3 separate regions of the Homo sapiens genome follow, and regions 1 and 2 are each linked to region 3. Evidence: fine-mapped expression QTL. A gene starts in region 3. Each other region holds a variant in brackets. All regions are shown on one strand. Distances are between the middles of the regions. Region 1 overlaps TENM3 (teneurin transmembrane protein 3). Region 2 overlaps TENM3 (teneurin transmembrane protein 3). Region 3 holds the start of TENM3 (teneurin transmembrane protein 3).

Evidence for each region. PIP is the estimated chance that this variant, and not a neighbour inherited with it, causes the effect. A credible set is the group of variants that fine-mapping cannot tell apart.
Region 1: its variant is the best candidate, but not a certain one, in a credible set for the expression of TENM3 in thyroid (GTEx, PIP 0.81).
Region 2: its variant is the best candidate, but not a certain one, in a credible set for the expression of TENM3 in thyroid (GTEx, PIP 0.57).

Annotation. Positions count from the first base shown.
Region 1 is chr4:182,555,094-182,557,862 of GRCh38, forward strand. All of the region lies in intron 3 of TENM3 (teneurin transmembrane protein 3), which reads left to right. Among named protein-coding and RNA genes, the nearest start is that of TENM3, 310 kb to the left of the region's middle. The variant G/A (reference allele first, on the strand shown) is at 1,083.
Region 2 is chr4:182,583,615-182,586,383 of GRCh38, forward strand. The region is part of intron 3 of TENM3 (teneurin transmembrane protein 3); the gene reads left to right. Among named protein-coding and RNA genes, the nearest start is that of DCTD, 330 kb to the right of the region's middle. RefSeq lists an enhancer at 1,597-2,153. The variant G/C (reference allele first, on the strand shown) is at 1,242.
Region 3 is chr4:182,241,928-182,244,696 of GRCh38, forward strand. It overlaps TENM3 (teneurin transmembrane protein 3), which reads left to right and starts at 1,475. Exons shown (of 28, transcript NM_001080477.4): 1 at 1,475-1,549.

The sequences.
Region 1 (2,769 bases), 310 kb after region 3:
GTGCATGCTGAAAATGTATATTTAGGAAAGTAAGGACATAATTAACATAAAAACCATTCTAATAGAATTAGTCTATGACTGAAGGAGGCAAGCGAGTCCAAATCATTCTGTATTGTTCAGTACATTTTTTTTTAATATCAGGCATAAATTTAACTGTGTGTTGCCACCAGTGACAACTATCATAGAGGTTTGGGTTTTTTAAAATCAAGAAATATAGTTTGAATCTTGCTCCTCCATGAACTGTAATACTATGTAAGTCTTACTTAAAATATTATGCTTATATGGTAGACATTATGTTAGTATAATTGTGAAAAAAAATAGTTGCCTAGAAGTAGCAGTGGATGCTTTAAAATTTTTTTTCAATATATTTAAACAAAAAGATTATTTGTATGGTTTGGGGCTTAAACATTGATTTGGGACCTAAAGTACATTTAAAACTACAGCATTGGTGATGAAATTTTGGCCTGGTTCAAGTAGGTGCTCAGTAAGTGAGCACTGAATGAATGTGCTATTAACTAAACAGCCTTACAAATAAATACCATGTCAAGAAAGACTCAGTACATCAAGAAAACCAAGTGCACATATTAACTTAAATGCATTTATATGGGTTTTAAATTGTTGCCCTTCAAAATGCAATAATGTATTTATTGATCTTGATTTTATGATTTGTAAAATATGCTTTTTTAAATTTCCTGAAAATTAAAAACTTAAGTCATTAATCCACTACTCTCTGGAATTACTTTTTTTTTTTCTACGAACACTTAAGAGTTTCTCTAAAAGAATAACTTCCCAGGTCCTGAGGCCTCTGGAATTACTTTTTTTATTCTACAAACACTGAAGAGTTTCTCTAAAAGAATAACTTCCCAGGTCCTAATGCTTAATGCAGGAAGTAATATTAGTACTTTTTTTGTTGTTTAGTCTCTTTCTCTGACCAAATATGCCACCAACTTGAGTCTCATTGTCCCTAGCCCATTAGGAACAATAGAAGTTTTACCCCACTTCCCAGCCCTTTTCTTAGGAATGTAGGAATCTGGCTAGAAGGCACAACAACCTCCCACCTTCCTAGTAGACCAAGGATTCCT[G/A]TTGTCAGATGCAGTGGGCATGAAAGCAGCAATTTTACAGCACAAAAACTCCAATAACATTTACTTCGGTTGGCTGAGATTGCAATGCACACAGGCACTGCTCATTCTTGGTTGCTTAAGCACCAGCTAGCTTCCCTTGGCTTTTTGCCACTTTGTGCATTTCAGAGACAAGTCCTTTCAGGAGAAAGCATTTTGCTTGTAACTTGCAGTGGAGTAAACAGACCATTCAGGCATAGTTTATTGCATTACAAACTCAACTATGCGAACTATCCCAAAATTGAATACAACAAAGTAATTAGTGAAATCATTTGGTCATGAGAATTCATAAAGAGGAATTGTCCTATTTAAAAAATAAAATTTTTCTTTTCTAAAGAATTATTTAAAACTTTATATTTAGAGAATGGTAGCTTATCTCTTATAAGTTTTACTTACATAGTGAAGCTTAAAGTGACCAATTTACAAGTGTCTTCCCCTTCCCACTCCCCTGTAGCCAGCACTTTGTTGAATTCATTTGGGAAATCTTAAGAGGGCACCCACGTTGCATTATAAAGCAAACACTGAAATGACGATGACCCACTCCTACGTAGACTGAAGTGCTGGCATATCAACCCCATGTTACTATATAAAGAATAGGCAGAGAAAAGCATACAAAAACATCTCAATAGCCTGACTCAGGCTGAACTAGGTAAAATGTGCATACACATTGTGGATTCCCTAGAAGACAGGCAAGGGAAGGCAAGAGGGATGTGCATTAGGTTACCCTAGAGGCAGTATTCATCTAATCAAGAGTTCATTCATTCCTGCAGCCAGTTTTTAAAATCATACATCTAATGTGTACTGAAAACCAGTTGCTAAATATGGTTACCAGACATTTTCTTCTTCTACAAGATTGTCCTAGGTTCTGTATTTGTTTTTTTGTGGAGCTTTTTTCGGAGAACTTTAAAACAAAATTATAAAATCTCATGTAAAATCAAAATTAAATGACTTTTTCTATTCAACATTGTATCTAATTATTACCTGTTTATAAACCAATCCTGTTCATAGGGTCAGAGCAAACTGCGGCTTTCAAAAGGATATTAATGGTTAGTGCATTTGTTAACTGGGACCCTATTTATTGTTCCTGTCCAACTCAGATCACTCGTGTGTGTGAACTAAGTACTCTGAGCTTCATTAGAATCGTAATTGTCTGTAAGTAAACTGTGATGTACTTGAATTTCTACAATTGTGCTTATTTTTCACATTTTGTTCAAATAAACCAGGGCTCAGCTCTTAACATTTTCAAATACTTGTTTCATTTTAAAAAAGGACAGGGGCCTTATTTGAGCTAACAGATGAGCCCTCATTTCTACGGAACCCTAAGCAAGATCCTATCAATCCATGTGCTAATGGTCTTTTTTATTGATGAATTTGGCCCTTGCTCTGTTGATTGAATCTACATATAGTCTCTAGCCAGTGATGCTTAAATAGAAGCCACAGGGTACAACATTTTGGAGTTGAAGTTCAGACCACACAGTCTCCCTTTCTGCATCCCACAGATTCTCATCTGTGCTCTCTCCCCCAGCCTCCAGCTGCTGCACTGTCACCAGCCCAGCTGAGATTCAGAATCACTTCTGGTGTGGTTCTGTCCCTCAGGTACCCTTTATGTGCCTCAGAAACACTTTTACCTAGATGTCTCTCTACCATTCAT
Region 2 (2,769 bases), 340 kb after region 3:
AAGTAAGATTCTATTTTTAATTCTAGATCTTTGATATATGAAAATGACTTGTATTTGAAGTGTTTAATTTTTGAAGTTTTTAAAATTAATGTCAGAACACTAGATTCCTCTTAAAAGTAAATTAGTAATTATATTTTAAAAATAAAATATACATTTTGGCAATACAAACCCAGTTATCATTTAATTGTTAGCATGTGTTTTCTACAGATATATTTTCCTTACTAGGCAGATAATGTACATGCTTGCTAATGAAAGCTTTGTGAGCTATGTGTCTTTGGCACTTATTTTGCATAAATTATAATACTGTGTTTTACTAAAATATGGGTTAAAGCAAATATATTCAAGACAGTGTGCAAATGTGAATGCAACAGATTCCAAATAGATGATTTTTTATTGATAAATAGTAATATAAGTTTTACTGCAGTTTTAAGAATCATCAAGATTTTCAACAGAAGGGCTTATTTGTTTTAAACCCTAAGCCGCCTTTCTGAAACCTGAAAAAGATTTGTGAAAACAGCCTGCAATAAAAATCACACACACTTCATAAAACAGTACTTGATAGATATCACTTGCACCATTAAGAGCTAAACGACAAAGGATGTAATTTCAGTTCTGGCATGCAATATTAATCGAAAGCCTTTAAAACATCTTGCTGATGGGAACTATGACAACATGACATTGAAGAATTATGAGCTAAAGACATCTATCTTAATCAGATTTTTGAAGTAAATGCCATAAAACATAAAGTTGTTTTCTTCATCTTTACATTTTTACATGTTTTTGGTGGGAGCATGATTTTCTAGTGTGTTGCTTTAAATGCAGAGACTGCAAAATCAGTATTTAAAAGTATGAGTTCAGTACACAGAGTTGAAGCAAATTTTAGTCAATACACTCTGCATACACAGGGAATTATTTCTGTAATAATGTACATTTTTCCATCTTTTATGCCAGCGATTTGTCTTAAGCAAATACTTTAAATAAATGATATTAATAGATATTTTGGAAACATAATTAGGTGTTTCTTTGCCTTTTTTTCTTTTTTTGAGACGGAGTATTATTCTGTCGCCCAGGCTGGAGTGCAGTGGTGCCATCTCGGCTCACTGCAACCTCCACTTCCCTGGTTCAAGTGACTCTCCTGCCTCAGCCTCCCAAGCACCTGGGATTACAGGCGCCTGCCACCATGCCTGGCTAATTTTTTTGTATTTTTAGTAGAGACAGGGTTTCTTCATGCTGTTCAGGCC[G/C]GTCTCGATCTCCTGACCTCAGGCAATCCACCCACCTCGGCCTCCCAAAGTGCAGGGATTACAGGCGTGAGCCACCGTGCCCAGCTGTATATTTGCCTTTATAAATTTAGAAATGAAAACAGAATGCTTGTAAAGACCTCCCCATAGAAAGAAATTATCTTATGGATATACTAACATGTAAACATCTTTTTTTCCTAAAAGAAATACGGCAAAAACATTTATTACTTTGTTTGAATAATTAAGAAAAGCCTGGAAATTAACTCCTTCCACTAAAATAACACTTCACAGTTTATAAAAATACTTTAATATACATTATCTCCTTTAATTCTCACAACATTTCCTTTTAAGATTGATTATTACCCCATTTTACAGGTGAGGAATTGGAGTATTTACAATAGGAAATTGATGATATAGTTACTAAGTTTGGGACAGGGAGCTTAAACTGTCCCATTTGGGACAGGAAACCAGATGTTATGGGCTAAATGTTTGTGTCCCCCAAAATTCAAATGTTGACGCTGTAATCCCCTATGTGACTATTGGAGCTAGGGCCTCTAAGGAAGTAATTAAGGTTAAACGAGGTCATCAGGGTGTAGCCCTGATCCTGCCGCATTAGCATCCTTATAAGAAGAGACACCAGAGGGCTTTGCTCTCCTGCATTGCTCCCCTGCTGTCTGCCTCGCCTCAGCAAGAAAACAGCCATCTGCAAGCCAGGAAGAGAACTGTCACCAGAAACCAACCGACCCTGCCAGACCTTGATCTGTGACTTCTGGTCTCTAGAACTGTGAGAAAATCATGTCTATTATTTAAGCCACCCAGTCTATGGCATTTTGTTACGGAAGCTTGAGCAGACCAGTACGTCACATCTCTATTCTCTTCATGATATATCCAGTGCTTATTCATCTCTTCTATGGACAATTTTAACAAACTGGCACCAAACTATGTGTAGACTCATGAAATGAAAGCTCATAAGATCCATGAAAGACTATCTTAGTTACTGCTTCTTTTTGAACCTTTATGTTGAGAGGAAGGTTCCTAGTGGCAGTGAGCATCTTGAAGAAAGATGCAGGCTTCCAATCTCAATATATCATGTTTACTACTATTTTAAAAGGCACAACCGGCTGGGCACAGTGGCTCACGCCTGTAATCCCAGTGCTTTGGGAGGCCAAGGTGGGAGGATCACTTGAGACCACAAATGTGGGACCATGTGGGGCAATATAGCAAGACCCCCACCTCTACAAAGCATTTTAACAAATTAGCTGAGGATGGTGCTGCATGCCTGTAGTACCCGCTACTCAGGATGGTGAGGTGGGAGGATTCCTTGAGCCCAAGAGTTCGAGGTTGCAGTGAGCTATGATCACAGTACTGTACTCCAGCCTGGGCAACACAGCAAGACCCTCTCTCTTAGAGGCACAAAAAAGCCTTAGAAAATACAGATTATTAATTTCCCAAACAATTATAGGACCTTACATTTATAGTACTTGCCATTCACGGGGCATTGTCATATACGTGATCTTACTTCGATGTTGGC
Region 3 (2,769 bases):
AGTGGACCCTTTTCAGTTTTGCTCTCATCTGTTTTCTCCACTGTCAGCCACATGCCTTTTCCACCAATTTGCCTTCTTTTTTTTTTTCCTCTCTCTTTTTTTTTTTTTATTTTACTTTAAGTTCTAGGGTACATGTGCACAAGGTGCAGGTTTGTTACATATATATACATGTGCACAAGGTGCAGGTTTGTTACATATATATACATGTGCCATGTTGGTGTGCTGCACCCAATAACTCGTCATTTACATTAGGTATATCTCCTAATGCTATCCCTCCCCACTTCCCCCACCCCATGACAGGCCCCGGTGTGTAATGTTCCCCTTCCTGTGTCCAAGTGTTCTCATTGTTCAGTTCCCACCTATGAGTGAGAACATGCGGTGTTTGTTTTTTTTTCCTTGCAATAGTTTGCTGAGAATGATGGTTTCCAGCTTCATCCACATCCCTACAAAGGACATGAACTCATCCTTTTTTATGACTGCATAGTATTCCATGGTGTATATGTGCCACATTTTCTTAATCCAGTCAATTTGCCTTCTTAAAACTTCTTGGTGGCCCAGCACGGTGGCTCATGCTTATAACCCCAGCCCTTTGGGAGGCTGAGGTGGGTGAATTGCTTGAGCCCAGGAGTTTGAGACCAGCCTGGGCAACATGGTGAAAACCCGTCTCTACAAAAAATACAAAAATTAACCCGATGTGGTGGCACTTGCCTGTGGTTCCAGCTACCTGGGAGACTGAGGTGGGAGAATCACCTGAGCCTGGGAAGTCGAGGTTGCATTGAGCTGAGATTGCGCCAGTGCACTCCAGCCTGGGTGACAGACTGAGGCCCTGTCTCAAACAATAAAACTTACTGGTTTTCCTGCCTGATTGCTTTCTCTGAACTGTACCCTAGATCTTCCTACCGTGGTGGTTCAGATGAGAGATGATGGTAGCCTGTATGTGGGTAGTGCTTATCAGAGATGGAAATAAAATTGACAAGAGTTGATAATGTATTAGAAGCGGAGGCTAAGAGAGAGGTAAGCAAGATAATCACTAGGTTTCTGACTTGCATAATTGGGCGGTGATGTCATTCACTGAGATTAGAAGCATTCCAGGGCGACTATGTGGTAGAGAGGCTACAATGAATTCAACTTTAGATGTATTGGAGATGTGTTTAGAATGTCTTAAGGGTAAATGTCACATAGGCTTTTATTTATTTATTTATTTGAGACAGAGTTTCGCTCTTGTCGCTCAGGCTGGAGTGCAGTTGGGTGATCTTGGCGCATTGAGACTTCCACCTCCCGGGTTCAAGCAATTCCCCTGCCTCAGCCTCCTGAGTAGCTGGGATTACAGGCATGCACCACCACGCCCAGATAATTTTTGTATTTTTAGTAGAGGCGGGGTTTCACCATGTTGGCCAGGCTGGTCATGATTTCCTGACCTCAAGTGATCCGCCCACCTCGGCCTCTCAAAGTGCTGTGATTACAGGCATGAGCCATCGCACCTGGCCATGAAGGCTTTTAGATGGGTCTGGAGCTTGGAGGAGAAGTCTGAACTAAGGATAAACTAAAGGTAAGTTGCTGAGTCATCTGTAGAGAGGTGGGAATTGAGGGCACGGATGAGACAGCCTAGAAGAAAAGGAGGAGAAGATGAGAAGAGAGTATCGAGGTATTGGAAACTGGGGAGGGCAGACAAGTCTAAAAAGGAGACTGGAAAAAAGTAGTTGAAGATGGAGAGGGCAAATCTGGGCAGTGTTGGGACACGGAAGCTGAGGAAAAGAGCAGTTCAAGATGCTTGAAATGAACACACCAAAAATACTGTGAACTATTCAGCACGTCCTTGTTTTATAAGTAAAATTCATAGTCACATCAGCGAAATAATTTTAAATGTATGTCTGTTGACTTAAATATTGGTTTTCTTTTGTGACTGAGGTTCCAGTACTTAGGAAAGGAAATGAAAGAGAGGCAGGGCACTCAGGGCTGACTGTCTTCTCAAAGTGCTAACTGATAGACTCTTCCAAGAATGGAATCATTTGTGTTTTCTTTTTTTTTTTTTTTTTTTTTTTTTGAGACGGAATCTCGCTCTGTCGCCCAGGCTGGAGTGCAGTGGCGTGACCTCGGCTCACTGCAAGCTCCGCCTCCCGGGTTCACGCCATTCTCCTGCCTCAGCCTCCCGAGTAGCTGGGACTACAGGCGCCCGCCACCACGCCCGGCTAATTTTTTGTATTTTTAGTAGAGACGGGGTTTCACCATTTTAGCCGGGATGGTCTCGATCTCCTGACCTCGTGATCCGCCCGCCTCGGCCTCCCAAAGTGCTGGGATTACAGGCGTGAGCCACCGCGCCCGGCCTCATTTGTGTTTTCTATTAAAACATATAACCCAGGGTATTAGACCACCATGGTGGTCACGGCGATCACAAAATATTTTTAACTGGTTTGCTGTGAGCTGATTTAGTGTTCTGAAATTTTATTATCTTGACTGGTAGAATTATTGGAACCAGCCATACATGTTAGAGTGATTGACAGCTACTTCTGATGAGGCTTTTATTGGATCTCAGGCAGCCTGCAAGTCACTGTCCTTTGCATTCAGATGCATTTATTTCCACAGCCTCCAGGGTAGCTAATGTTATTTTTCCTTCCCATTCCGAAATTTTAAGATGCCTCAGCTTTAGCCTGGCTCCTAAACTGATGGACAAGAGGAGAATATGAAGAGGAAGACGGGTCTCCTGGAATCCTCAGTTCCCAGGCTCTTCCCTCCAGTGGTCCAGGAACACTTTTGTCCCTGTCATAGATT